Regions from separate parts of the Homo sapiens genome. Here region 1 is linked to region 2. A link means that fine-mapping ties the variant in region 2 to the expression of a gene that starts in the linked region. Tissue or cell type: whole blood. Region 2 holds a variant in brackets; the other region holds the start of a gene. All regions are shown on one strand. Distances are from middle to middle.

The links. PIP is the estimated chance that this variant, and not a neighbour inherited with it, causes the effect.
Region 1: SMC3 starts here. The variant in region 2 is fine-mapped to the expression of SMC3 in whole blood (INTERVAL, PIP above 0.99).

The regions. Positions count from the first base shown.
Region 1 is chr10:110,566,236-110,568,990 of GRCh38, reverse strand. SMC3 (structural maintenance of chromosomes 3) reads right to left here and starts at 1,296. Exons shown (of 29, transcript NM_005445.4): 1 at 1,160-1,296; 2 at 1-53. The coding sequence starts at 1,174. LOC105378483 (a long non-coding RNA gene) reads left to right here and starts at 1,683. Exons shown (of 2, transcript XR_946318.2): 1 at 1,683-1,958. RefSeq lists a silencer at 687-976 and enhancers at 1,317-1,416, 1,427-1,476, 2,291-2,755.
Region 2 is chr10:110,595,179-110,597,933 of GRCh38, reverse strand. SMC3 (structural maintenance of chromosomes 3) reads right to left here. Exons shown (of 29, transcript NM_005445.4): 19 at 1,384-1,536. Among named protein-coding and RNA genes, the nearest start is that of SMC3, 29 kb to the right of the region's middle. The variant A/G (reference allele first, on the strand shown) is at 1,493.

The DNA.
Region 1 (2,755 bases), 29 kb after region 2:
AAGGGATCTACAATTGTTTGATCTCTGTAACTTCGAAAACCCTGGATAATCACCTAGTAAATAAAAAACATTTTTGAGAACCCACCCCACAAAAAAAATTAACATTTTTCTCTTGCATTTCTTTCTTGTTTTTCATTTAATGCAATATAGAAAACTCGAAATTTCATATAAGAAAAATTCATTTTGGAAAGTGGTGATTAAAAATCTGCTAAAAAAAAAAAAAGGTACTTTTATCGGTAATCTTTGCCAAGGCAATGCTGCTGGGTTTTATTTTTTTTTAGGAGTTATGCTGTCAACCTGTTAAGGACCTTTCAAAATCAAAAACACTGTGTGAGCTTAACTGAACCCTAAACGCTGCAGTACAATAGCAAGTCTATAAAAGCAGGCCGACGGGCCCCAGCTCTCCTGACTCCAAGACCACCGAGTGCTGCTTTCAGTCACTCACGCCGGCCAGCCTGAAAGAACCCACGTTCCAAAGAAGGAGTGCTCAGAGCCCGACAGACCCAACAGAAAACCGTCTCCAAGGCCGTGTGCCTGGGCTCATCTTTGTGGTGGAGTCCCGCGCGGGAAGACCATTTTGACAGAAGTAAACAACCGAGGGAGGCGGCGCTCCGTATCCTGCAAGCAGGAGGGTCCCGCTCACTTCGCGGGTTAACTGGGGAGAAGAACGGCTCCCCGCAGTGACAGGTGACGACACCCCAGCCAATGCCCCCAGGGCCGCCCCCGGGCCGGGGAAGCCACCTTTCCACACATCCCAGGCACATGGGCCGTGTGAGGCCACCCCTGCAGGACCACACAGCCCTTCCCGCCCGCGGCCGCCCCGGCGGGGTGCCCCCCGCCAGCTCTGGGGCCACCCAGGAAGGCCCAGTCCCTCCCAGCGGCCCGCCCGCCGGCCCTTCCACACCTCTCGGAGATCCTGCCTCTCCCAGACAAGCGCCAGCAGGGAGGCCGGGGCTGCAAAGGAGTGCCCCAATTCTCCGCGACCCCGCAGCCGGGGCACTAGCGGGACCCGGGTCTCCCTCCTCCCCCACAGTCCCCGCCCAGCCCTGGTCCAGCCTGTGGAGACAGGGGAGAGGCTGCGGGTGGCGCCGCAACACTCCCGCCTCAAGGAGCGGCCCTTACCGGCCCATGACGGGGTGGAGGGACGCGAAGGCCTTACCTGCTTTATGTACATGATTCCGGGCCCCTGGCCTGGAAGGAGACCTGCCCCGGAGCAGCAACCGCACGGCCGCAGGGTCAGGTGAGGCGCCTACGCGACCCCTCCCCCAAAGCGCCGCTCGCTCCCCTCAGCCAAACAAAATGGCGGCGCTCGTGGGGGCGGAGTCCGCGCCTCGGACGGAACCACCTTGCAGCCTTCACAGGGCGTAGGAGGAGTCAAGTTCAGGTCTGCTCTTTCTTTTAGGCAAAACCAGTCCTCCACAGCGTTTTTTGGTGGATTTCTTTTGAATCTAGAATTCTGTAGCTAACGCTTTCCTGAGACTTAGTCAAAAGCTTCACTCGGAAAATCTATGACCGTAGGGTTGGTCCGTACCACCTCCGAGCGCGGGGCCAATGGTCGCGTCCACAAAGGGGGAAAGGTTCCGCGCCAAAGCCAAGAGGGAGACTCCGAGGGCCAGTAGCGCCGCGGGCTGTCGGCCACGTGATTCCGCGCTGTTTAAAAAAGCGGACCTCGCGCGCACTGTGCTAGCCTTGGAACACATGGAATGCTGGTGATTCTTGGAATTCTGTGTGCGGAGTCACTGCTGCCCCTTTGTTATCGCTCTCCATAGGAACGTTTACAATCTTAGCACGCCCCAAGCTGGTTACGAATTGCCCACTCGGAGGACAACCCCGAAGGGATTTGTCAATGCTCGAAAATTTGTTTTAATAATGTGATGATTAATTCCGTCGGGAACTGTTTCTGTTCTACCATCTGCTATAAATCTAGGCAGATCTGTACAATTGCAACAAAGATTTAGGTAAGGCTGAAAGCTTTTAATCCACTTTAAAAACAAAAGAAAACAGCCTGAAAGATACTAGGTGCTAGTGGCAACCCTAGGTCTGTCTGATCCTTGTCAGTCTTGGGAGAAAAACATCATTTGTTTAGAAAATGAATCTCTGGGCTGCTCTGAAATTACTTGCTGGGAAGAGAACAAAATAACTACCCAAATCATCCCCAGCCCCACCCCCGCCCGCTGCTGGAGACAATTCTGGCCCTAATTATTTCTAGATTGAACTATTTTTAGTAGCCTCCTAACTGCCTCTGCTAACCAGGGTATCTCCCTAGGAGTCCTTTATCTGGAGCCCGGATCAAATCCTATCCAGCCCTTGGTTTAAAAAAATAAATAGGCCTGGTCGAGTGGCTCAAGCGTGTAATCCCAGCACTTTGGGAGGCTGAGGGGGGAGGATCACCTGAGGTCACGAGTTCAAGACCAGCCTGGCCAGCATGGCGAAACCCCCGTCTCTACTCGAAATACAAAAATTAGCTGGGCGTCGTGGCGGGTGCCTGTAATCCCAGTTAGTCGGGAGGCTGGGGCAGGAGAATTGCTTGAATCCAGGAGGCAGAGGTTGCAGTGAGCCAAGATCGCGCCACTGCACTCCAGCCTGGGCAACAGAGCGAGACTGTCTCAAAATAAATTAAATAAATATGTAAGCATTTTCTTTTCTTTATTTCTAACTTTTTTTTTTTTTTTTGACAGGATCTTGCTCTGTCACCCAGGGTGGAGCTGGAGCATAGTGGCTCGGTCATGGTTCACTGCAGCCTCAAACTCCTGGG
Region 2 (2,755 bases):
TCACTCTCAGAATAACATGTATACTGTTTTACTAAAAGTTATACAAAACAAATTCTTGGAAAACCATAAAGGAGGTTAGGTGAAATCTAACAATATTACATACTTTTAAATATCTTTTCATTCAACAAATGTTTACTGTTACTATGCTTAAGGCACTATGTTAAGGGTTTATGTATGAAGAGTTCTTGCCATGTGTGGAATAATTCAATCTAGCTGGATTATCAAACACAGGAAGACAGCTGGTATACACTGTCAACATCCTCCTTTTCCTCAGTATTTCCCCATACGCTCTTTGTGTTAACATCTTGCCAAATTCAGGCAGTTCTTTAAAGTGCGATATGCAGACCCCTGCAAGGTCAAAGCTCAGGTGCTTATTTTTCTTTTTCTGTGCTTGCACTGATGGCACAGAAGTTATAAATCTGCAGTTTTAAAAAAATTCCAGTTTCACCTGAAGCAGTTAAAAATCATTAACTTTATATCTATTCTTGATGCTCAAGTACCTATATTTTTCAACTTGTGTGGCAAAATGGAAAGCACACATAAAGTACTTCTTATACCAAAGCACCATGGTGGTTTTAAGAAAATCCACATATACAATTGTTTCATTTGTGAACTGAACTAACCACTCCTCATGCAGCACCATTTTTATGTAAAAAAAAAAACTATGGCTACTCCGACTTGGTTATCTGACAGCCATTTCCTCCACTAACATTAAATCTGCACCAAATAACTTCAAGACAGTAAAATCTAACATTTTTCACCCTCCCCTGTCACCTTTTTTTTTTTTTTTGAGACAGGGTCCCACTTTGTCACCCAGGCTGGAGTGCAGTGGTGTGATCTCAGCTCACCGCAACCTCCACCTCCCAGGCTCAAGTGATCCTCCTGCCTCAGCCTCCCAAGTAGCTGGGACTACAGGCCTGTGCCACTGTACAAGTACAATAAAATGCCAGTCCTTATATATTTGACTTCTAAGCAATATGTAACATTACTGATGCCGCCCCCACTCTCTTCCTTAAAACAGTATCTCTTGCTTACATAAATTCAACAGGGAAGAAGGGAAAAAAAAAAAAACTACCAAGGTTTTACTTGTACAATTCACAAACTGATCCTTCTCAGTTTCCTCTTTCTTTGCCTGATACAACCTTTATTTTTGTGTTCTATGGGTTCTTTTCTTCCAAGTGACTTCATGGTATTAGCTACTTAACACTTAAGCAAAGAATCATTAAAATAGCTTTTAGTCTTCAAAAGCTAAACAAACATAAGCTCTTGAACTTAAAACACAAGAAATTTTTAATATGTGAAAAAACAAAAGATTATATATGGCAACCAAAACACAGTTCTTCCCCCACAATATCTATCACTATGCACAAAACAAAAAGATATTTTCAATATTTCTGCGCAGGTTTTCATTGAGCTTTGCTTCAAGTTCACCTAGTTCTTCTTCTGCTTTTCTAACATCTTTTTGCAATTCAAGTCGAGACTTCCTTGTGTC[A/G]TAATAACCCCCAGTTAGAGCACCCCGATGGCTGACTTGGTCACCTATAAACAAAACATATGTAATAGGTCTGTACAACTTTTTTATTCAATGATAAATTGACTTATAACAAAAAAACTAACCTACAGGCTTTAAGTAGATAATGAGAATTGAAAGTAATTTAAACCACCCTGAAAAAATTTTGCTTTTCAATGCTAGATTTTTTTTTTTTTTTTTTTTGAGACAGGGTCTTGCTCTTGTTGCTCAGGCTGGAGTGCAGTGGTGCGGTCATAGCTCACTGCAACCTCAAACTCCTGGATTCAAGTGATCCTCCTGCTTCAGCCTCCTGAGTGGCTAGGACTACAGGTGTGCACCACCACACCTTTTTTGTAGAGACCAGGTCTTGCTATGTGCCCAGGCGGTTCTCGAACTCCTGCCCTCAAGTGATCCTCATGCTTTAGCCTCTTAAGTATCTAGGATTACAGAGTCAAGCCACTGTGCCCAGCCAAAATTTGCAGTCTTTAAAAAAAAAAAAAAAAAAAAAAGAACCTCCAGTTGAACCTGAACATCTACCAGAGGGGAAGGAAGTGAAGACTAAAGAGGAAATATTAGTAGGACACAGGACCTAGCTTGAAATTTCCACTGGCCATATTTGGGAAAATTTGAGCATCAAAATAACAATACCAATGTAATAACATATTGAATTAAAAAAAAAAAATTCATGAATCACAGTGATACTTTTTTAAAAAATGAAAATTGGAGACTCTTTTCTACAGAAGAGTGACAGCTAATAAATGCAGCAGCAATAACAGAATTTATGAATCACCATTTTGAAACCCCCCAGTGTAACAACTGATTCAGGCAAGAGTCAACAAAGTGCTAAAGCAACTGAAGTTGTTGGGAGAACCTGACTTGAAGAATAATCTCACATATTATTAAATTACAAAGGGGCAAAGGGATACCTTTACAACGGAGAGATCTGCAGGTGATCAAACCTAGTATCACTAACAATGGGACACATTATATGACACCATAAGTACATATCATTCATGTAGCATTCATGCCAACAATATTTAAACAATGATGAGGAAGCAATAAGACAAATCCAGAAAATGGAACTTTTCTGGATTTCTCTGGGTGGGGAGAAGGGAGCAGGAGGAACTGTCTTATATTTAAAGAATCTAGACCGGGCATGGTGGTCATGCCTGTAATCCCAGCACTTTGGGAGGTTGAGGCAGGCAGATCACCTGAGGTCAGGAGTTCGAGACCAGCCTGACCAACATA